Linked DNA regions of Homo sapiens: region 1 is linked to region 2. The links come from fine-mapping of genetic effects on gene expression. A gene starts in region 2. The other region holds a variant in brackets. All regions are shown on one strand. Distances are between the middles of the regions. Region 1 has its middle 82 kb from the start of USP44. Region 2 holds the start of NTN4 (netrin 4).

The links. PIP is the estimated chance that this variant, and not a neighbour inherited with it, causes the effect.
Region 1: its variant is fine-mapped to the expression of NTN4 in caudate (GTEx, PIP 0.96).

What each region holds. Positions count from the first base shown.
Region 1 is chr12:95,625,311-95,642,198 of GRCh38, forward strand. No RefSeq gene overlaps it. Among named protein-coding and RNA genes, the nearest start is that of USP44, 82 kb to the left of the region's middle. RefSeq lists an enhancer at 7,649-8,848. The variant T/C (reference allele first, on the strand shown) is at 8,787.
Region 2 is chr12:95,786,179-95,794,716 of GRCh38, forward strand. NTN4 (netrin 4) reads right to left here and starts at 4,586. Exons shown (of 10, transcript NM_021229.4): 1 at 4,077-4,586; 2 at 761-1,290. The coding sequence starts at 4,131. It also overlaps the pseudogene RNU6-247P.

The DNA.
Region 1 (16,888 bases), 160 kb before region 2:
GATATTAAAGCAAAGCCTCTTTATTTTAAATTATTAGTTCATAGTCTTGCTTTGGAGATCCCCAAAATGTCCATGCTAAGAACTTTGAAAAGCAGGCTTTTCTTTTTTCTTTTTGAACAATAGACATAAAATTCCAGACCTAGAGTGACAAATCAACACGTATCAGTTACTTTCATTGTCAAGGGCATTTTGGGTGTTCACACTTTATCACATTACTGGTAACCAAGTATTATTCCTGACCTGTGTGTTTGTTTATAATGTATACAGCAGAAGTTTGCTGGCTAAAGAAGGAAGCAACTGCTAATTCTGAGGAGTCAGAGACAGGGTGCTCCCATCCACCTGTGAGCATTGTCTGTAGACACAATAAATAGCACATCTTGCATGTATCTGTGCTCGATGAGGTCAGGCGCCGTATTGGTTTTACCTGTGTGTCTTCAGTGCCTACCTCAGTGCCTGCTACATATTAGGCATTCCATAAGTCAATAAATTCATAAAAGGAATAATAAACACGAGTTTCCTATCTGCAAATGCTATTGTAATAAAATACAAATTTATTTTATTTTATTATTATTATTTTTTGAGACGGAGTTGCGCTCTTGTCGCCCAGGATGGAGTGCAATGGCATGATCTCAGCTCACTGCAACCTCCGCCTCCCGGGTTCAAGCGATTCTCCTGTCTCAACCTCCCATCTCAGCCTCCCGGGTAGCTGGGATTAGAGGCGCATGTCACCACGCCCGGCTAATTTTTGTATTTTTAGTAGAGACAGAGTTTCATCATATCGGTCAGGCTGCTCTCAAACTCCTGACCTCAGGTGATCCGCCCGCCTTGGCCTCCTAAAGTGCTGGGATTACAGGTGTGAGCCACCGTGCCTGGCCTTGTTATTATTTATTTATTTATTTATTTGAGACAGGGTCTCCCTCTGTCTCCCAGGCTGGAGTGCAGTGGTGCCATCTCAGCTCACTGCAACCTCAGCCTCCCAGGTTCAAGTGATTCTTCCGCCTCAGCCTCCTGAGTAGCTGGGATTACAGGCGTGCCACCACAGCCCCGCTAATTTTTTTTTTTTTTTTGAGACGAAGTCTCGCTCTTGTCCCCCAGGCTGGAGTGCAATGGTACTATCTCCATACACAGATAATTTTTGTATTTTTAGTAGAGATGGGGTTTCACCATGTTGGCCAGGCTGGTCTCGAACTCCTGACCTCAGGTGATCCGCCTGCCTTGGCCTCCCAAAGTGCTGGGATTACAGGCATAAGCCACTGCGCCCAGCTGTCATCATATTTTTTATTGTGGTAAAATATAACATAAAACTTACTATTTTAATCATTTTTAAGTGTACAGTTATTGTGGCATACTGGTTCTAAATAGATTCTTAGAGTGCAAATACTACCCTGGGGGTGGGGGGTTCTCAAAATTCTTTATGCTAAGGATCTTCAGACCTACTGTGGTTGGAAATCATTGGTAGTCTATTTCCTAATAAGAAGTCATCTAATCTTGCAGGAGTTTGAGACCAGCCTGGACCACATGGTGAAACCTTGTCTCTACAGAAATTACAAAAATTAGCTGGCATGGTAGTGCATGCTTGTGGCCCCAGCTACTTGGGAGGCTGAGGTGGGATGATCATCTGAGCCCAGGGAGGTCGAGGCTGCAACAAACCGTGATCATGCCGCTGCACTCCAGCCTGGGTGGCTGAGTTTGTTTGTCTCAAACAAACAAAAACAAAAAGAAGTCATCCAAGCGTGACTATTTCCATTGTTGTGTGTCTTCAGGGAGTGATATGTTTAATGCCGATAAAAGTGTTACAATGTTCTTCCTTGTACTGACTTGAAACCTGTCTCCCTGTATTTTCCCATTGGTCTTATTGATTTTAGTTTGAGGAAATGGGATTAGTACATTATGTCTTTTTCCAAAGAACAGCCTTTATCAGTGGCTGGCTTTTCATTTTTTTTCCTTTAAAAGCAACTTACTATAAACTAGAATCTTGGTCAAATCTAACCAAAATTCCTCCTATTGTAATTTAAAATGGAAAAAATTAAAAATTTTGCTCTTTCTATCAATTCTGGACCTTAAAAGACATGGCTAACTATTAAAAAAATATATAGGGTAATTCAGGGCGCTGAACCCAAACTGGCAACCCTCGCACAGCATGTGCTACCTCTAGCGTGTGCTTTATTGTCAGAAACTTAATTCCCAGAGGTAGGACAAACACAGGAGATGAAGAGATGTATTTTCGAGTGGAGAGCTGTGGTCCGCTCCCATTCCCTTTATCTGCAGATACTTCTTGCTTCCTTCCCACCTAGTGAGATTTGTGCCTTCTTTTTGAGGCAGGGGGTGGGACCCAACTCCGGAGGCAAGGCTTGGACACTGGACCAAACTGAGGACCAGCTAGTTCCAACCCATCTGGTCTGCTGATCTGGAGAGTGAACACGTCCTGCCTTTGGGCCCCTTAGACCAGCTATCCAGAGATTTTTACTCCTCCAGTGCTACGTGGGGCCGACTGCCCATGAACTCAGTAGGAAGCAGTTACAGAAGATGGACCTCCGCCCTTCTGCAGCCCCCTTGAGATTAAGGAGTTATCTAGGCCGGGCGCGGTGGCTCACGCCTGTAATCCCAGCACTTTGGGAGGCCAAGGCGGGCGGATCACGAGGTTAGGAGATCCAGACCATCCTGGCTCACACGATGAAACCCCGTCTCTACTAAAAATAAAAAAAATAAAAAATAAAATAAAAATAAAAATAAAAAAATCAGCCAAGCGTGGTGGCGGGCACCCAGCTACTCAGGAGGCTGAAGCAGGAGAATGGCGTGAACCTGGGAGGCGGAGCTTGCAGTGAGCCCAGATCACCCCACTGCACACTGCACTCTAGCCTGGGCGACAGAGTGAGACTCTGTCTCAAACAAACAAAAAAAATGGAGTATCTAATCTCTGAGCAGGGAGTGAGGCAGGAGGAGGACTCGACTCCGGAGGCGGGGCTTGGACACTGGACCAAACCAAGGACTAGCTAAAACAGGTCCTGCCAGGCACGGTGACTCAGGCCTGTAATCCCAGCACTTTGAGAGACCGAGACGGGCAGATCATCTGAGGTCGGGAATTCGAGACCAGCCTGACCAACATGGAGAAACCCCATCTCTACTAAAAATACAAAATTAGCTGGGCCTGATGGTCCGTGCCTATAATCCCAGCTACTCGGGAGGCTGAGGCAGGAGAATCGCTTGAACCCAGGAGGTGGAGGTTGCAGTGAGCCGAAATCGTGCCATTGCACTCCAGCCTGGGCAACAAGTGGGAAACTCCTTCTCAGAAAACAAAAAACAAAAAGCAGGTCCTGGTGGAAGCAGCTTTCTGTAAGACACACCCACTAGTGTGCCATGTCAGATTACCATTGCTATGGCAACACTCATGTTGAAGCTACTGCCCCTTTCTATGGCAACAACTCTGATAACCCAGAAGTTACCACCCTCATCCTAGAAATGTCTGCATAAACTGCACTTTAATTTGCATATAATTAAAAGTGGGTATAGATACGAGTACAGAACTGCCTGTGAGCTGCTCATCTGGGCACACAGCGCATGGAGCAGCCCTGCTTTCTAATGCCACCACTCACCCTTGGATTCTGTGAACCCCAAATATCTGAGACAGATCTTAGTTAATTTGGAAAGTTAATTTTGCCAATAAATAGGTGACACAGCCTCAGGAGGGCCTGATGACATGTGCCAAAGGTGGTCAGAGGACTATTTGGTTTTATACATTTTAGGAAGTCATGAGATATCAATCAACATATATAAGATGAACATTGGTTTGGTCCAGAAAGGCAGGACAACTCTAAGTGCGGAGGGGGCTTCCAAGTCATAGGTAGATAAGAGACAAATGGTTACATTACTTTGAGTTTCTGATTAGCCTCTCCAAAGGAGGCAATCAGATAGGCATTTATCTCAGTGAACAGAGGGGTGACTTCGAATAGAATGGGAGGCAGTTTTGCCCTAAGCAGTTCCCAGCTTGACTTTTCCCTTTAGCTTAATGATTTTGGGACTCCAAGATTTTCCTTTCACAATTCTTTCCTGGGTGAAGCTAAGAACCCTCCTGGGCTAAACCCTAATTTTGGGGCTTGCCTGTCCTGCATCATTTTCAGCCATGTGATAGGCCCTCCCATTCAACTAGACTCCTGGCTTTACATTTTGATGAGGAATTATTATACTCAGAACACAGTGGGCCTAGTCCTAGGTCACACTCCAATGAATGCCAAAGGAAGGTTGACTACTGAGTCAAAGACAAAATAACAAAACAAGCCGGTTGGAGCTGCCAGTCCTTACTTGGCTGCCTCTTATGTTTCTCTGATTACCAGAGCCAGAATTAGCTATGAGTGGGAGACCACGCTCTTTTTCTTCACCTCCCACTGCTTGTTGATTCACGTGGGCATTTCAAAAGGATTCCCAAGTCCAAAATAATTTGCAATGAATACAAATATACTTCATTTCTAATTTTGGTCTTTTTTTTCAGTTCAGTATATGAAAATTCATTTATTTAGTGAAACCCTACATTAAAGCATCCCAACACAAAGCAGATTCGACTGTAACATAATTGGTGATTGGCTCATCTCATAGGCTTATATGATCAGTGTGTTAACATACAACAGGACTGTACCCTTTTACATGATTGAGTGTTTTGGATCTCACTCACACACAAAAACCCTGCCATAATGCTGTATCAATTAGAGCTGTTCAAATGTGAAGCTGCATTGGAAAATGGGAAACTTTATCACCATATATATGTATATTTTTTGAGACAGAGTTTCGCTCTTTTGCCCAGGCTGGAGTGAAGTGGCATGATCCCAGGTTTTATTAAAGTCTGCAAAGGGATTTTGTACCTGATAGTTAAATAAAGTAATTAAATAAATACACTTTCTTTAACTGTATGGGAACCAATATCTAAATGTGACTTTTGTACTTGCTTTCAGAAGTCACTTCTTGGACAAGATCTTGAAAGTTTAGCACCTTGGTAGTTATTTCCACAAGTGATCCTTTGGCAAAACTTACTTATACCATGGTATGGAATCAAAAGGAGCTATCTTAACCTGGTTTTCTTTTCTCTCATCTCAAAAAACCACTTCTGCTCATTCAGAATTTATCAGTATCCCTGTAATTCTTTTTAGTCTTGTTCTAAGAATTACCTGACAGTATTAATAAAGGCTGACTAGCTTTAGTTATGACTCCAGAGTTGGATTTAGCTAAACCAACCCAATTAGGCCATCAGTGCTAAGGGCAGCATCGGCCTTTCATAGTGACAACCGGCCTATCCCCTTCCTTTCCACCAGGCAGGAAGGAAACACTTTTGTCATTTCTAACCAACAAGGAAACATTTTCTGGTTGCTCCTTAACAGAAAACAGGAAATTCTGTTGGTCATTTTCCCATGGTAATCATCTAAATACCTATCTCTTGATAGATCCCAGATAATTCTAGGACTGGAAGAGAAGCCTCAGATCATATGGTCCGTTTCCATGACAGCCCTTTATACCCATATTAAAAAGTCTAAGTCGGCTCTCAGCCATCTCCTCACCATATTACATGGTATTTTCTCTACGGGAGTTCATAGTATTCACCTCCTCTCTTGGAAACAAAAAAGCATTCCTCTTACTCCTCTCTGAAGCACTGGAGAGTGTCCCCAGTATAGTATTTGATGTCTTTGCATGTAGAGGGACAGTTTTTTCAAAGCAAAAGACAGAGGAGAGGTGATGGGGAAGGAGGAGAGAAGAGAGAGAGGGAGTAGGGGAGGAGCAGGGGAAGGGGCAGAAGAAGAAGAAGAGACTGTTGCAGATAAAAAGAGACTTGAGGTCAAGCGAGGTAGCTCACGCCTGTAATCTAAGCATTTGGGGAGGCCAAGGCGGGTGAATCACCTGAGGTCAGGAGGTTGAGACCAGCCTGGCCAATATGGTGTAACCCTGTCTCTACTAAAAATACAAAAATTAGCCAAGAGTGGTGGCATGTGCCTGTAATCCCAGCTACTCAGGAGACTGAGGCAGGAGGATCGCTTGAACCCAGGATGTGGAGGTTGCAATGAGCTGAGATCGTGCCACTGCACTCCAGCCTGGGCGACAAGAACAAAAAAACTCCGTCTCAAAATAATAAATAATAATAAATAAATAAATAAAGAGAGACTTGACAGCCTTATCAGCTAACTGCAATTGATGGGCCTAGTTTAGATCTTGATTTGAGCAAAATAATTGTAAAAGGATACTTTTGAGATAGTTGAGAAATCTGCACATGGACTAGGTACTAACTAGATGATACTAAGAAATGATTGCTAGTTTTGTTCGACACAATCATTGTATTGGAGTTATGTTAACAAAAACTTCTTTTCTGTTAGGAATACAAACTGAAGGATTTATAGTTGAAATGATAATATATCTGGTATTTGCTTTAAAATATTCCAGAAAAACAAGATAAAATAAGATTGGATAAATGCTAATTACTGAAACTATGTACAATGAACTAAGATTCATTACTTGCTTTACAATTATTTGTATATACTTAAAAATTTCCTAGGATACAATTTTCCGGGTTGTTTTTTAAGAGCAAGGAAGAGCACATCTTTCTTTCATTTTTTCCCCACTGTTAATTTTTTGTTGTGATTATTCTAGTGGCAGAGAAGACATATTATTCAATCCAGGTCTTGCCTGTATTATTTATTTATTTATTTATTTAGACAGAGTCTCCCTCCGTCACCCAAGCTGGAGGGTAGTGGTGCGATCTCGGCTCACTGCAACCTCCACCTCCCAGGTTCAAGCAATTCTGTGTCTCAGCCTCCTGAGTAGCTACGACTACAGGTGTGTACCACCATGCCTGGCTAATTTTTGCCTGCATTATTTTTAATAATGATAAAGTAACTCAATAGTTGATCACTAAATCGAATAACTACAAGGCTGGTTTTTTTATTTTTTATTTTTTAGTGCTAACTACTATATTTCATGTGCTTTATATTTAATTAATAAGTATAGAGGAGGTTATTTTTTCCTTTTGCAGTTGAGGAAACTGAGGCTCAGAGAGGCTACAGTAACAACTGCAAGGTTAATAGAGCCAGCAGATGATGAAGGCTGAGATTTGGAAACAGATCTAGTTCCCAAACCTGTGCTTTTTGCACTATCATCTTACCTCTCATTCTGTTTGTGGTTTGGGGCCTTGCTAACTGGTGACAGCCAAGTTAGCTGGCAACTAAGAGTGAGTTTCTTAAAATGTAAATCAGACTATATCACTTTGCTACAGAAAACCTTCCAAAGACTTCCAGACTGAGTAAAATCCCAATTATTTTCAGAAGCCATAGGGCTCTTCCTGATCCCCTCCATCCCTGCCACCCCATGCCCCTCATCTCTTTCAACTACCACTTTGCTCGCTCTGCTGCAGCCTGGCGCAATATTCTAAGAACTTTTCCTTAACTGTCTAAGCTTCCTGCTTAGGCCCTTCCCTTGATATTCCCTCTGCCTGAAATGCTCTTTCCCAGATACCACATGGGTCACTTTCTTCCCTCTCCCCTAATTTCCTTCAGTCTTTGCTCAAATGTATTCTTCTTCTTTTCAAATACATATAATTTTAAATTTTATTTATTTATTTATTTTTGAGACAGGGTCTCACTCTGTAGCCCAGGCTGGACTGCAGTGGCACAATCTTGGCTCACTGCAGCCTCCGCCTCCCAGCCCCAAATGATCCTCCTGCTGCTCTGTCTTCAGCCTTCCAAGTAACTAGGACCATGGACGTACACCATCCCACCCAGTTATTTTTTATTTCTATTTTTTGTAAAGACAGAGTCTTGCTGTGTTGCCCAGGCTGGTCTCAAACTTCTGGCCTCAAACGATCATCCCACCTTGGCCTCCCACAGTGCTGGAATTACAGGCATGAGCCACTGCCCCCTGCCCTTCCTTATCTGTGTTCATCGCACTCATCACTACCTGACATTATTATGTACTTATTTATTTATCTATTACCCCTGAGTAGAGTGTAAACTCGGTGAGGACAGCAGTTTTTTCCATTCACTGCTGTATCCCTAGCACCTAGACCAGTGCCTGGCACACAGTAGCTGCCCAGTAGTACTTGCTGAATCACTGAATGACTCTCAACCTCATGAGTGCGGTGCTGTGAGTCACCGGGTTACTACATCATGCCCAGACTGGGCAACCTGGGGGCGCTGAAATGGAATCACCGGTAAAGATCTGCAGCTTCCTCTGTGATGTGGGTGTGGTGGGAAGATTTGCATTCTGAATCCATCATTTCCTTGCTGCCGGACTGTGAGCAAGTTTCTCAACTCTCTGTAGTCTTCGTTGTGTCATATGTAAAATGGAGATAATAATTATTAGATAATTACATAATTATCAGATAATTATGTAGAATACTGAAAAAGTTATCCAGTTCAAACCTCCTTTTTATGGTAAATCAGAAGTTCCCCCTCAGCTCCATAAACTTCATTTGCTTTCACAATCCCAGACATCTGATTAGGCAGCCAAGAGCTCTGAGAGGCCTTTGGCCGGAAACTAAGGATTTATGAGAGCCAATGTTCTCTGTCTCTCCTGTTTGAGCATGTAGATGACATGGAATAACCTCTCTGATGTATTGAATTCGTTTCTCCAGTGTCGTTTATGCTGCCAGATGATCACTTCCCAGTTTGATAAAAATCACTTCATAATGGGGATTAGATGGTACCAAAATGACAGTGGTCTCTGCTGGATCTGACAAATTCTCTCTCTCTCTTTTTTTAACCCCAAATCTCTAGTATGCCAAAAGTTTGCACAAAGGCTTATTGTTGTTATAATTG[T/C]CTAGGACTTAATAAATTAGCTATTGTCCTGAGATAACCTCAAAACTCCTGGCTAGGAGGTTAAAAACGATTTTTAAGGGAGCATAAATATGGACACACTGGTAAAAAAGTTTTTCATCCCGTGTAGCATTTTTTTTAGGTTTGAGTGGAAAGTGGTGTGTGACCACAGGAATGTACATTAACAAAAGCAGTAAGCTAATTAAATAACACACAAATGTTGTATTGTCTGGGTATTAATTCTTCAAGGTCATGTCTTAGTTTATAATGGCAAAGGGAATTTATTAAGGGAGAATTATTTGACAGGAATCTTTTTGTTATTATAAGTTACATGCAGGTTAAGATAATCAACAATATTTTTTCTATAAGAACCATAAACAAGAGAAATCCTGCAACATATACTTCTTGCTTATTACATTATGGTGTTTAGCTTACAGGAACTTGGGAGGAGATAAGAAAAAAGAAGAGAAGAGGAGAGGAGGCAAACACTCATTGGGCGTTGTATTCGTCTGTTTTCATGCTGCTGATAAAGACATACCCAAGACTGGGTAATTTATAAAAGAGGTTTAATGGACTCACAGTTCCATGTGGCTGGGGAGGCCTCGCAATCATGGCAGAACGTGAATGGCACGTCTTACATGGCAGCAGGCAAGTAAAGAATAAGAACCGAGCAAAAGGGGTGTCCCCTTATAAAACCATCAGATCTTGTGAGACTTATTCACTACCATGAGAACAGTATGGGGGAAACCGCCCCCATGATTCAATTATCTCCCACCAGGTCCCTCTTACAACACGTGGGAATTATGGGAGCTACAATTCAAGATGAGATTTGGGTTGGGACACAGCCAAACCATATCAGATGTTAAACTGGAGGTTAATGTTCTAGTCAGTTGGCTATAGCGAGAGAGACTGAGAGTTGCCCTAGTTTCTGAGGTTTAATACCTAACAGAGCAGGAAGCAAATGAGCACTGAGCCATGTGTGCACCTTTTTCCTGCCATCCTTAAACAAACATAGCTGCAGTCCAAGGGTGCAAAGGTGGGTTTGGCACTGGAGCTGGGTTTCCTGGTGACTTTACTCTCTGTCTTGGCATTTGGTCTGTGTTTATAGTCAAAGCAACAGACATGAGGTAATGAAGCAGAGAAGGGAATCACAGAATAATGACCATAACATAAAGGCACTGTTTACTCTGAACCTTTTGAAGGATGGAGGAGGATGTGAGAGTCAGCTGCATTGCATCTGCCTTGGGGTCATCTGCGGCCTAGACTTGCTCTATTCTGTGTCCATGATCACCCAGTATTACACCACAGCTATTGGAGGTCAAGGGGGCTGTGAAAAGCATGTGATGTAATCACCCTTCCAGGGATTCCTGTTGAGACTAGTGATGATAGCTGAGTGCCAGGAACTCCTTGGTAGTGGGCATAAAAAGGTGCTTAATAAATAGTTGAGTAACTTGACTCTTACGCAGCCTATAGTCATGGTCTCCATTCCTTTAAAAATATAACCCAGGGTATGGTAGGGCTACACCTGGGGAACTGAGAGACTGGGGACTAGTGTTACTAATGCATCCTTGTTTCATCTGGAGGTGACAGTAGGGATAGGATTCATTTAGGAAAGGCAAATAACACACTGAAGGACATGAGGCTACAAGAGAGACAGTGGGCCATATCCCACCTCAGGGACCCAAAGGACACAGTCTAAATGGCAGCTTCAAGTGTGACAATTTGAGATGGAGTTTTGCTCTTGTTGCCCAGGCTGGAGTGCAATGGCGTGATCTCGGCTTACTGCAACCTCCGCCTCCTGGGTTCAAGCGATTCTCCTGCCTCAGCCTCCTGAGTTGTTGGGATTACAGGCCCCTGCCACCATGCCCGGCTAATTTTGTATTTTTAGTAGAGATGGGGTTTCTCCATGTTGGTCAGGCTGGTCTCAAACTCCCAACCTCAGGTGATCTGCCCGCCTCAGCCTCCCAAAGTGCTGGGATTACATGAGCCACCGTGCCCGGCCTCCTCTACTAATGTTTTAGGGACTTACACAAGTTTAGTTCAAAAAGACTTTTTGGAAAGAGCTATGAAATATAATCTATTGCAGCAGTATGGAGACTCAGTGGAGAAACGGCTATGAGCTACCCTTTGACGAAGGTATTGCAGAGCACCTCTAAGAAGTAACTTTTTTTTTTAGAAAAAACTTCTGTTTTAGGTTCAGGGATACTCGTGCAGGTTTGTTATATAGGTAAACTTGTGTCACAGGGTTTGCTGTACAGGTTATTTCATCACCCAGGTACTAAGCCTAGCACCCAGCAGTTATTTTCCACTCCTCTCCCTCCTCCCCTCCTCCACCCTCAAAGGAGAACCCAGTGTCTGCTGTTCCCTTCTTTGTGTTTATGATTTCTCATCATTTAGCTCCCACTTATAAGTGAGAGCATGTGGTATTTGGTTTTCTGTTCCTGTGTTAGTTTGCTAAGGATAATGGCTTCCAGCTCCATCCATGTTCCTGCAAAAGACATGATCTGGTTCTTTTTTATGGCTGTGTAGTATTCCATGGTGTATATATACCATAGTTCCTTTATCCAATCTGTCATCAATGGGCATTTAGGATGATTCCATGTCTTCGCTATTACGAATAGTGCTGCAATGGAAAGCAGTGTGGTGATTCCTCAAAAAGCTAAAAGCAGAACTACCATTCAAGCCAGCAATCCCATTATGGGTATATACCCAGAGGACTATAAATCATTCTATCATAAAGACACATGCATGTGAATATTCACTGCAGCACTATTCACAATGGCAAAGAAATGACTATGAGATGTTAGTGACTAACTGCCAAGGCAACAAGGGACATCAGAGCACATGAAGCTTTGCCAGTAGGGTAGGCCATGGCAGGAGGGAACAGCATGGAGCCTGAGACTAAAGAGCCTGGTCCCTCTTGAGCACAGTAATCCAGTCTGGTTATCACAAACTGAAATAAATCCAATAATGGAATAGTCAGAGAGCAGAGTCTGGAGTTCAAGTTGTTTCTGGACCTGCATAATGTAACGTAACGTAACGTAACGTAACGTAACGTAACGTAACGTAACGTAACGTAACGTAACGTAGCGTAGCGTAGCGTAGCGTAACGTAACGTAACGTAACGTAACGTCAGAACAGGCAGCTCAGAGTGGCTCTGTCACCAGGCAGGTAGCATGGCTGCTCTCAGAGGCAGAGATCACCAAAGGATTCAGTAGCAAGGAGTGCAACTAGAACCCAGTGGTGGAATCCGAGAGCGTGCACGTGTCCCTTTACATGGGAAAAGACTTCCCAGTGAGCCCTTTTGGCAAAAGAGGCACCAAATTGAGGAAAACAAATTGTTTCTTAATGGCAGTGACACAGAAGAGTTAGCAGTTTCTGATTTTGCCAAATCCAATCCTTCGTTAACAGCATAAATCAGGTTAAAGTGGAATATTTGTTTTCACGTTGTTTGTTGTGATTTGAACACTGATGTCATTACTTCCTCATTTCCAGTTTTATGCTTTTCTCTATTTCCCACTGGAACCAGTCAGCTAAAGAATATTTGGCTGGTGGACAACAGGAAAATACCATGCATAGCAACTGAATATGTATGTGCTATGGAAAAATCTCCTGGCCCTATAAAATCAACAAGGAAAATTCCTAGCACAGATGCAATAGTGACTTCTCACGTTAACTATAGTTCATTTCACGTAATCCTTATGTTCTAGAAACAACATCTGTTCATCCTGCTGTAGATCTGTTGGAAGCCCAGGCGTGAGAATGCAGGAAAAATTTTCCAAGCCAAATTACTATGTAATACTAATAGTGATACTTCATTATGTGAGACACTTGTTGGCGTATTTTTCTTTTAGGCTTCTTGCAAAATGGTGCAGATGGTATCACATAGTGGAGGTAGTGGCTGCTTCTCGGGATCAGGGCTTGCTTACATGCTCTCCCCACCTCAACTTTCTGCTAAGAGTCACTAGAGGGGCCAAGTGAGACTTTAGATAGGACCAGCATTTGCACGAGGTGGAAGATCTCTCCAATACCACACCTGAGGTGAGACAGGAAGAAGAATAGAGCCTACGCCAGTAAGTCAGGTGCTGTCACCATGCTTTGAACTCCATGGACGTTTAGCAGGCTGTGAGGAGTCTGGGAGGGTGGACAGGAATGGGACCTGGGGAAGGAGAGCAGCAGGAACTTGGGGGGACAGATGTGCGCAGGAGCCTGGAATTGTGAGCCTGGTCCAATAGGCCAGGCTGTGGTTCCCCTCGAACACAAGAGGGAAGGAGATGCCTCTGCTTTTCCTCAATGAGTGAGTGCTGGGATGGAAAGTGGAGCAGAGGGTCAGGACCCAGATTGCGATTAGAAAGTTATCATAAAGCCACTAAGGTCAATCAGGCAAGGAGGAAGCAAGCAAGAAAGATGCCAACAACTAGTCGGGCATGGTGGCTCACGCCTGTAATCCCAACAATTTGGGAGGCTGAAGCGGGTGGATCTCTTGTGGTCAGGAGATCGAGACCAGCCTGGTCAACATGGCGAAACACCCTCTCTACTACAAATACAAAAATTAACCGGATGTGATGATGCACGCCTCTAATCCCAGCTACTTGGAAGGCAGAGGCAGGAGAATCGCTTGAACCTGGGAAGCAGAGGTTGCAGTGAGCCAAGATCACACCACTGCACTCCAGCCTGGGCGACAGAGTGAGACTCTGTCAAAATCAATCAATCAATCAATCAATCAACAACTGCAAACACCAGCAGCTTAATGTAAAAGGACCCCAGGCCCTCCGGAGAGGTTAAGTTCTGGGCAAGAGGCCAGACCAACAGAACCGGGATAATTGGCTTTTTTGCCACCACTTTCTTCTCTCTCTAAGCCATCTTATATTGCATTTGGATTTTTCTTCCTAAAACAAAACTTGAGATACATTACTCTGTGCTCAGAGAGGTTTGGATGACTCCCTTTTGCCCAATGGACCAAGTTCCAACTCCTTAGCCAGGTGTTCAAGAGCTTTGACAATCTGGCCTTCAACAACCTTTCCAACCTTATCATCCACTGCTCACCTTCCTAATCCTCCTATTCTGGAGAGAGTGGTGTTTTTTCATTGTCCGCACAGAATTTGCTTTCTTGCTCTCTGAGAACCCAGGATGAGATGAAAACCGTCTCAACTGTCTTCTCGTCTTGCCATAGGAAATCTGGATTTGTCGACCAGGCTGCCAGTTATGGTAGCCACTTCTTTGCTCACATGTGATTTCACGTCTCAGCAACATTTGACAGTCTTCTTCCTGAAATCTCACTCTCTCATTTCTCTCACCTTCTCTTAATTATTCTCCAATGGCACTTGCTGCTCTTTCTAAATCCTTGTTTGTTTTTCTTCTTGTGGTTGAGCAGCAAATGCAGAGGTAACTTAGGGATTTGTCCAAGGCCCTGTTCTTTGCCTACATTCTTTTTTTTTTTTTTTTTTTTTTTTTTTTTTGAGACAGACTCTCACTCTGTCATCCAGGCTGGAGTGAGGTGGTGTGATCTTGGCTCACTGCAACCTCCGCCTCCCGGGTTCAAGCAATTCTCCTGCCTCAGCCTCCCAAGTAGCTGGGACTACAGGCATGTGCCACCACACTTGGCTAATTTTTTATATTTTTAGTAGAGATGGGGTTTCACCATGTCGGCCAGGCTGGTCTCAAACTCCTGACCTCGTGATCTGCCCGCCTCGGCCTCCCAAAGTGCTGGGATTACAGGCATGAGCCACCGCGCCCAGCCCTGCCTATGTTCTTATCCTGGTCATCTCATCTGTGGTAGACTATATTATGGATCCCAATTTTATCCTCTCTCCCACTTCCTGCATCCAGGGTGTCATCTCAGGCAGAATATACTTCTGCCCTTGATGTGGGACTTGGACGTGTAACTTGCTTTTGGTACTAATATATTGACAGAAGTACAGGTGTATCATGAGCCCCCACCTTTTATTTATTGTAAATTTTTATTTTTATTTTTTTGAGACAGAGTCTCACTCTATCGCCCAGACTGGAGTGGCACAATCACAGCTCCCTACAGCCTCAACCTCTTGGGCTCAGTCAGTCCTCCCACCTCAGGCTCCCAAGTAGCTGGGACTACAGGCGTGTGCCACCAGGCCCGGCTAATTTTTGTATTTTTGGGTAGAGACAGGGTTTTGCCATGTTGCCCAGGCTGGTCTCTAATTCATGGGCTCAAATGATCCTCCTCCTCCTGTTGGCCTCCCAAAGTGTTTGGATTGCAGGTGTGAGCTACTGCGCCCGGCCCCCAGGTCTTTCTCAAGGCCTCCAGTGCTTCCTCTTGAGCCATCGCCATTGCCTGGCTGGCCTGTTGGTCCCAGGAGGATGAGAGACAGAGTAGAGCTGCCCACCTGACCCACAGACCTGCAGACAGAAGCAGAGATGCCTCACTTGAACCCCGGGCAATCTGCAGATGGCAGCAAAAATCAATGGTTTTACAACACTGAGTGTTGGGAATGGTAATGTAGCAATAACAAATCAACATATCATCGGTTTACTTATGCCTTCCAAGTACAGATGTTCAGCCTTTGACGTTGCTTCTTTTGTGCTCTAGACTTGTGTATCTGGCTACTTGGCATCTCCACTCACTGGCTAACATGCATCTCAAACCAAAAGAATCCATGATGGAACTCTTTATTTTCATGCCTAAATCTGCTCTTATACCATCATCCTTCCAGTTATCAAGCCAAAAAACTAGGAGTCAGTCTTCATTCCCCTTTCCTTCATTTCCCACGTTTAATCCATTAGCAAGCCTTGTGGGTTTTCCTACAGAGCACTGCATATAAACACAGCCACTTTTCTCTATCTTCATCCACATGCCACCTCGTGTTTGGAAAACTTCCGTAACCTTTTAATGGTTCTTTCTGCTTTCATTTTGGTTCTTTCTTCAATCCATTCAGCTAGCGGGACCTTTTTTAAAAAAATAAATCCCTCCCATTGCTACTCATCATTTTCTAGAATAAATCTAAACTCCTGCAAGGTTCTCATGTTCTGGCCCTTGCTGGCTTCTTCAGACCTCATTTTATGCCATGCTCTGGCCTCATGGGTCTTCTTGCTGTCTGCACTTCAAGTGCTGCCAGCTTGTTCTGACCTGGGGATATCACACTTGTTATTCCCTTTAATAAGAGTGTTTTCTCCCATCTATTTATTTCTCCTATCTATCTATCTATCTATCTATCTATCTATCTATCTGGAAGTCTACCACCTTCTCACCATATGGTTATCAGCTTAAATATTACCTCCTCAAAGAGGTAATATTTAAGGTGTGACTGTTTTATTTTAGGTAGCTCCCACTCACACTATCTGCAAACTGAGTGTGTGGCCGATACTCCTGCAATGGAGACCTGGCTGCTGCAGCTGCTGGAGGGCCAGTGGCAGACAGTCTCCAGCTGTCAGCCCCTATAGGAATTGCTTCAGCCACAGAGAGATTTCCCCAATGCCATGCCCCATCCTAGGGTGGCCAGCATCCAGTGGGATATCTGAAGGCCTGTCTGCCTCAGGTCAACTTGGGATGACCCTGAAGGGTCATTCCACTTCTGCCTTCCTTCTGGGGTTGGCTGAGGCTATCACTAGGCATGCTTTGCAGCTCACCTTCTCTCTCTGCTCACTTCCAGTTTCTCCTCCCGCTCTCCACTGACATTGACACTCCTTGATAAATGCTCTGCATGCTAAAGTCCATTTCAGTGTGGCTTTCTCCACGGCAGTGAAGCATCATTTCCTTCTCAGTGTTTACAAATCTTTGAAATTTTGTTTATAGGTTGGTTGTTTGTTTCTCTTACTAGAATCTAAGTTATATGAATGTAGGGACCTACCTGACTTCTTTACTCCTGTGTCCTTAGTGCCCTGACCAGCCTGGTATGTCATTATCATCACTGTAGCAAACACCTGGTATTGATGATATGCCAGACACTGTTCTAAGTATATTCATCCACTTTATCTTCCCAACAACCTTGTGAGGTAGGTGCTAGTATCTTCTCCACGTAGAGACTGGGATGCTAAAATACAGAAAGCTTAGTTGGCTAGCCCAGGGTCACACAACTGGTAAGTGACAGGGCCAGTGTTTGAACCCAAGCAATCTGGCTCTAGATTACACG
Region 2 (8,538 bases):
GAAGTATTATATTCTCTTAATCTGCTTTTATTCAGTTTTCTCTGTTCTCATACACCTGAGGGTTGGGGGGAGCCTTTCAAGGTATTGCCACATAAGTTAAGAAGAGCTAAAAAGAGACCTGTTTCTCCCTTAGGAGAAAGGAATATTAAAGAGAAAACATTCCACATAGAAATTGGATCAGTAGCTAATGAGGCTGTTTTGCAGAATGAGTTTAAGATGGCCTAAGCTGAAATTCATGTGTCTGTGAGCCCAGAAGAACCTTTGTATGTTAAAAGAAACTACTTTCATTTGTTTGCTACTGTCATACAAAAGTATCCTTCTGTCAAACAGATTTTTTTTTCTTTCTTGGCTTTGTTTTTATTTACTTCCTATTTATATTAACACTATCAGGAAGATACCCGTGTGGGCTCCAGGAACAGACTGTCTCAGTAACTCTTCCCCCTTCAGAAGCACAGTAAGTAGTCCCGAGAACTGAAGCAATGAGGAGCCTCTAGAGTGATGATTTGTGTCTGCTCTTTTTTATATGTGAAAAATTTGAATCTTAGAATACTGACTTAAACCCAGCCAGTGGGCAATCTGCTTGAAAATGACTACACATTCATATGTAAGGGTAAGAAATAATTTATGACAAATAAATCTCATGAAAAATTCTAATTTCATTCATGTTGCTACAAGTATAGCTTCATGCTTTAAAAAAAAATGCGGGCTGGTAACATTTTTCTATCTTACTTACAGTGTAGAGTTAAACAGGTGCCCTTACCTCTCCTCCAGTGCATGGAAAAGGACTGGAGTATTTAGAAGTACAAATAGCGCCCTTCTTGACAACATCATCTTCCAGGCCAAATGTAGCGGAGCAGTTAGTCGCAAAGTACTTATAAGGCTTCCATGTTTTCCCAAAGTCCTGGGAGCGGTCCAGCACCATGGCAGCCGGCCTGGGGGACTTGAACATCACAATTAGGTGAGTGAAGTAGAATTCAGCTTCCAGGTCTAACTGGATCTTTTCTCTGTGCACATCCTCCGCAGACTGCCACCATGTGCGAGGAAACCGGAAGGATGAGTCTGCCATGGCAGATGGCAGGTGAGCCAGGTGAGGATAGGCAGCATTGCACTTGTCACATTTGGGCTGCCGACAAGTCAGATCCGTGTTCTCACTGTAGAAGCAGTACAGTTCGGTAGCATTCTGACCGCAGGTGGTGTCTGCCCAGAGTTTTCGCCCCAAAGCCAAATTTCCCATCCGAGGGTTGCAGGCTTTTTCACAGCGGGAACTCACTCCAGCTACTCCACTCAGTCCTAAGAAAGGGAAAGCATGCATGATGCAAGACAAACCCATCTGGAAAGCTCTTTTGGCCACCTAGTCCATCAACAACAGTCAAGGATCTCCCCAAAAGCGCTTGAGACTTTCGATAAATGGCAAATTCTACCATGCTCCACCATGTTCCTGTTTGAGCATGAACACTGTTCTGCATTCACAATGCATTCGTGTATGCGTGTGTGTGTGCGTGTGTGTGTGTATTTGCTTTTCATGTTCAGATGTAAAATTCACATCACAGAAACAAACACTTTAGGCAGAGGGCAAGAGGAGGGAAAATAGAACCACCAGGGTGAAGATTATTGGCCTAAAACTTTTCAAGTACTTTGCCTTATAAATGTTTTCTGTATTTCAAATACATTGATGTGTTTTTGAAGTCATGACTATTGAAAAACCATAATGTTTTTAAGACCACCTAAGTTAGTCTTTCAAATTTAATGTGAGTCCTTCACATGATTTAACATGTTTATTATGAGAATGTATTTAGAAGGAAATGTGGAATTCTATTTTCTTTATATTTTTAAGCCAGGGAAGGGATAAATTCCCTAGGAAAAGCAATATGAGATATTTAATAAATATACAATGGGTCCTCATTTAGAGGGAGGCAAAGCTAGAGACCTTTGGAGTTCAGATGTGCACTATCAGTTTCTAACATTACATAAACATAACTAAGAAAAAAACTCTCTGAACTGCCAAATGGCAGAAAAGCTTATTTTACATGCTGTCTCTTCAGGGTTTCTACCTGTGACAGGTTATAGAGTAGTTAACTGTTTGCTTAACAGGAGAGTGTCTACAGTCTGGCAGCCACTAACAGCACCTTTAAATATTATCTGTGAACTACAAGACCTTCTTTAAAAAACACACTTTTCCTCCCAAAGGTCCAACAGACTTTAATGTTTTAAAATGACTTAAAATGATAAACATTATCCACTTATTAACATTCTGAGTACATACTATAATCCTTTGATTTGCGTTTGTCATTTTAATTGTGAATACCTTAAGCAAAAATCATCTATTTTAAAGGTTAAAACAGAGGGGGAAAGAGGGAAAAGGAAATCAACCCTTAAATTCTGGCTAATTGAATGTTTCTGCTGCTTAAGAAGCAGTACCTCTGAACTGTTGTCATAGTAAGGATTGGAGGAGGCCAAATGACAGCTTAGGCTGCAACAGAGACATTTCACACACTGACAATGGCCAACCCCACGAAGCCTTGCAACTAAAGGGCTTCCTTAGGCATTATTTTTTAAATGTCAAATTAAAGTGTGCATTATGCCTGGGTTCTGTTTGCCACTTTTCTCATTAGCTGGGGCAACAGTTGCTTGTGGCCAGAAGCACACAAACACACAATGTGCTATGACTCACCTGTAAAAAATTTCAAGGAAAATCATATACTGCCTGTACAAGTATTTTTGACTTGAAACACTTGCCTTGTGATGTTTATTTACAACCTTTCAATGGCTTGCATGTTTTTGCCATAATATGGTTTGAGAAGGAAAAGGTTTTTTTTAAAGCTCATATTTTAAGAGTGCAAGAATTAAAGTAAAATCTTAGGCCTTTAATAGGTCCCTGGGAAAAATATCCAATAATTTTAAATGCCCCTAAACTCCTAAGTCCAGAAAAGATTTGAGCCAGATAAAGAATCCATGGGGCAAAATACTTGGAGTCACTCAAGGGACTATTCAATGATACTAAGGATGCTCCTGTGACTTGGACTGGTTTGGGATGCAGACTGGAAAGCCTGGATTTTGCTGGGTGCCAGCGGCCCTCAGGGAAGAGTGGAAGCCCAAGGGAGGAGATGCGTGCTACAATGTTCTGTAGCCACCAGCGCATCCCTCTAGCCCAGGCGCCCCTTTCTGAAGCAGTCAAGATCCGCACGAGAGACTGGATGTCTGCAGACTCCCTCACATCTCTCCCCCTCACCTACAGGGCTGCGCTTACGCCTAACTGGAAACCAGGTGACCCGCAAGAGGGAGGGAGAGGAGCAGAAGGGGCTCCCGAATACAGAAACCACGAGCCAGGAGCCGGTGGCCTAGGGCAGCCCAAGAAAGCCAGGATGGGAGTGGGAGGGAGAGGGCATCTGCCGACGCCGACGCCGGTTGTCCAGTTACCGAGCCAGGGAGCAGACCCGCCTCCGACCTCCCGCAGAGTCTCTGCCAGGGTACCAATTCCCCAGGGGCGGCCAGCCAGCTCAATGCAAGCCCGGGGTGATCACCACCTATCGTCCAAGCCAGGAGTCCCACTGCGTTCCAGTCACTGCTCCGGGGAGAGGGCGCTCAGCCCTGCCCCAGGTGTCCTTACCTGGTTCTCTAGTACCCAGCACCAGGTCAGGGACACCAGCGATGGGCTTCTACCAGAGACCGGCCCCAGCCCACGCGCGCCCAGGGTCGCTGGGCCACCCCTCCTCATCATTCCTTAGGCCATGAAGTGCCGGGGGATGGCGAGCTGGGTCCTTTGTTCCCTCACCAAGTGGAAAAGCAGTTTTTTAACAAGCCAAACCAAGAAAGAAACCCCGGTCGCAGTATCCCCGGCAGGGCGCACCCAGGATAGCTGGTTATCCAAGCGCATGTGTATCCCAGTTGTAAAAATAAATCAATAGTATTTGAAACTGCGGAGCCCCGGGGAAAGGAGGCGGAACATGGCCACTCATTTCACCCTCGGGAGCAGCGCTCTGCGCTCGCAGCCCTGGCTCCCCTGCACCCCCGAGTCCCGAGATGGGTTAGAGAAGCAGCGAGGGAAGGGGTGGGGGCCCCGCCGCGTCACCACCCACCTGCGGCCACCACCGTGCAGCCCCAGAGCAGCAGCAGCCGCGCGCAGCTCCCCATGGCCGGGAGGAGCCGGGAGCAGCCGGGCCGGGCGGGTGCCGGAGGGAGCCGAGACCTCTGGGCTGCGGGATGAAGCGCCGCCGTCCTCGGGAGGGAACGGGGCCCTGGTTTCTTCCTCCTCCTGGGGCGCCGGGCTCGGTCAGCGGTCGCCGGCAGCTGGGAGCCAGGGGCCGGGACCGCGCGGGGAGGTGGGGTGACCCTCGCGCACCGGCCTGGCGGGTCCCGGGCACCTGGGGGGCGGCGGGAGCCCCGGGACCATAGCCGGCCTGGCTGCGCTGCCCCGCGGAGCGGCCCTGCGGGCTCGTCTGCCGCTAGCCCGGGGCTCGGCGCCCGCAGCCGCCGCTGAACTTTGCGAGACCTTTCACTTCCCGGCCGCCGCCGCCGCCTCCTCCTGGGCGTCCTCCTCCGCTTTTCCCACCTCTTCTGGCTGCCCCGGCTCCGTCCCGTCCTTCTCCACGGGCAGTTCCATGCGATGCATTTTTATTGCACCGACGCCGCGGCGCTCCGGTGCCAGCCCTCCTCCCCTCGCACCTCCACCCCTTCCTCCCGCCCGCCCCCCGCGCTTGACAGCCCGGGCGGCGCAGCCCGCGGGATCGGATCGCCGCTGCCGCTGCCGCCCGGGGGGGGGGTCCCCCGCGCCCCGACCGACGCCCCCGACGCCCGGCTGCCCGCTGGTCCCGGTCGCCTCAGCCTGGCCCCCGGCTGCCCTGGCGCCCCTCCTGGCCCGCGCCCTGCATCTCCCTAGTGACCCCCCTGGTGCCCTGCAGCACCCACAGGCCTCCCCTGGGAAGCAATCTCCCACCTTCTCCCGGAACATTCCTAAGAGCAGTAGACTCCCTCTAGATCAGGTCAGGGCATGCCAAGGGGCTTAAAAAACCGCGAAACAGGCTAGCGCCTACTTCCCACATCCCCCAGCGAAACAAGCCCTCCCTCCTCCTCCAGCCACCCCCTCTCGGGGAGTCCCACGACCCGGGGACGGAACACCCCAACCCAGCCCCGCGTCACCCGCACTGAGAGCGCGCCAACTGCTAAGCGGCGTTCGCCGCTTCTCTGCTGCCTTTTGCGGGGGTAGGGGGATGTCTCGGCTAAACAATCGCTGCCTACATGATCCGAAGGTGTGCCCACTTTGGTGTAAGAGGTATTGCCTAACTCAAACTCAAGGTGCTGAAAGAAAAGGGTCACAGGATTAGCTAGTCGGCAGTGTAAGAACATCGTTGTCCAGAGGCAGGGCAAGGGCACGACAAAGGGAACTCTTCGGTCCTTCCAAGCGTTCTCCCTTTATAGAGTATGCCGTGCTGTGAAACAGTGTTAGGAACTAACTTATGGGGAGCAATTTAGTAGCAACCACACGCAGCTAATTGCAGATAGGATTGCTCAGGGCTGGTGCTTCTGGAAAGAGATTAAATAGCAGCCGAGTCTGAGATTTTTGCAAGTTCTGTGAAAATATAATTCTACTTACACATCCAGGGAAACTGGCAAAAGTTAAGTCGACAGCAATTTTGTATTGCAGTGCTCATTTTGTTCCTTTGAATATTTTCCAGAAAATTAACTACGTTCCAGATACCATTTAGTCGTTGTGTCTGTTACAGATGAGGATAATTCAGAGCTTTGGGATACATGTAGATATTATTTACAATGACCCAGCCAGGAACATATAAGAAGTTTATATCTCCCAGGGGGATCTGGGTTGAGGTCAGCATAATCCATTTGGGCGACATTAAAATTATTCTTCTGGCCAACAGAGGAAAGTAGCAGAAGGTGTGGACAGCAATTCATGTAGCATCACCTGCTTTAGAAAATAAACGCTTTGAGTTCCCAAATACTGGCAATGGTGGGGCTTTCTTCATATCTCCTAATGGAGCCATTGAAACACCTCTCCAATTAATCTTTTTACCAAATAAATGATAGGAAACTATAACAGCCAAAGGTTCTTAGCATAAATGTTAACTTAATAGCCAAGGCAAATTAAACAAAGGGGTGGATGCACATTTATTATTAACTTCTGAGTCTAGTATATTTAGGCAGAACTAATCCATTTCTGTTTTTTAATTAACAAATAAACTTGTATGTATTTATCATGTACAACATGATGTTTTGAAATATGTATACAGCGTGGAATGACTAAATCTAGCCAATGAACATATGCATTTTTGCATATTAACATGCATTTAAGAATACACTCACTGTCTTAGCATTTTTCAAGAGTACAATATATTGCTAAAAATATAGAATGCTTCACAAATTTGTATGCCATTCTCATGCAGAGGCCATGCTAATCTTCTCTGTATTGTTCCAATTTTAGCATATGTGCTGCCAAAGCAATCACAGAACTACTCCATATCTCATTACAAATTTCAAAGCCATTTACTGTCTGCACGAATCCTGCATTGATAATATATTTCTTTGCTGAATAACTGGCTCTTATTTCCTTTAACAAGACAGAAAGCTCTCTAATGGTAGAACAGTCTTTAATATTCAGTTTATACAAAACATTACTATGTTTTTCTGATATTTTTCCTTATTCTTAGCCAAGAACACCTACAATAAGTGTTCATTACATGTTTTTGACTGAGTTGTGTTAAAACTATTGTTATATACTAAGGGGCTAAGGAGACTAAGGACTAAGGAGAAAACCAGTTATATCACAATGATTTCCCATATTCAAAAGGAATCTGCACATTCGACACCAATACTATCTATATGAAAAGCTCAGGAGAGAAAAATAGTCAGCATTCTAATAAACATCATTTGCTTATATAGTCCAGTTTAGTTACAAAGGATATTTTCATTTTGAAGAAGCTATCCAAGAAAAGGTTACCTACATAAGAAAAATCTTGGATAAGTATATTATTGCCTATGATTTTGTTTTTGAAAACATCAGTCATGGATTCAGAATATTTTGTAATTTTATGAATTAGTAGGAAGCTTAGCAAACTTACAGAATTTCAATAACAATTCCCAGAAACCACAAAATTGATAAGTTAAATCTAGAATATTCCTGAGAACTTGAAAGGAAGTTAAAAGGGTCTTTAAAAAGTAAAATAAATGGCATAGCCAGGCGTGGTGGCATATGCCTCTGGTCCCAGCTACTTGGGAGGCTGAGGTGGGAGGATAGCTTGAGCCTGGGAGGTCGAGGCTGCAGTGAGCTGTGTTGGCACCACTGTACTCCAGCCTGGGCAACAGAGTGAGACCTTGTCTCAAAATAAATAAAATAAAATAAATGGCAAAACTCTTTGCACCAAAGACTTTACTCACAGGAGAGCCCTTCAGGACCTCACTTAAATCATTCATGTATTTTTATTAAGTTTGGTTATGACATCTTTCTAGATCACAGCCTATTAGAAGTAACAGATTAGAATGGAGCAGGATGTTATTAAAGACAGGGGATAAACTGAGGCAATCCAGTAATGAGAAGGATGGGAAAACTCTAAAAAGCAGCCATAAGTACAAAAACAAAACCAAAACATCCACAGCAGTCTGAGGCCTTCTAGTGCAGAAACAAAGGACGAAAAAGCTATAAAGGCATCACTCTCCGGTAACTTAGTAGAGTAAGTGAGGTTCCTAGTGGAGCGTAAGACATTCAGAATCAGGAGGGACCCTTGAGCCCAACTTCTCACTCCATCAAAACCCCTTTCCACAAAGCCTCTGTCCAAAGGTCATCCAGTTTCTGTTCTAAAAATCTCCATAAACAAGAGCCTCAAAGGCAATTCTGCTCATTTTTGGCACTGTTGTTCTATTTAAGTGGGATGTTTCTCTTCTTAAAATTCTGTGTTTATAGGTTAGTCATCTGCAACCATACAGAATAAGTCCAATTTCTCTTCTGGTAGGTATTCAATGATTTAAAGTAAAGTTTTAATAATTTTCATCTTAACTATCCTTTTAGTTTAAACACCCATATGACAGGATTCCCACACTTTTCACCATCTTAATCACCTCTTTTCAGATATACCCCAGCTTGTCTTACACTGTGCATGTAGAACTCAACTCCAGGTTTGTCTGATCAACATAGAATAGAACTAACATTTTCCTTAACTTAGCTCTATGGCTTATATTTCTGTAACCTAATGTGATGTTGGCTGGTATATTTGAAGTCAGCTAAAATCCTTTTTTCATATATTGGTATCTTACAGAGTCATCAATAAAAGGTAAAATATATTTTGTTTTACCAGAGGGAAATATTTCCATTAAAATACATTGCATGTAGTAAGCATTCAATAAACATGAATTTGAAGAATAAATCAACAAATTTAAGCTGCTAAGTTTGAAAAATGGTTACAAATTTTAAAAGAAACTTTTAGTTTTCAAAGAACTAATTACCTATTTTCTGAAAAGGTGATCACTTTTATGGAAAATTTGACTCTTCAACAATACCATTTGCAACTGGCATTATTATACATTTCCAAGAAA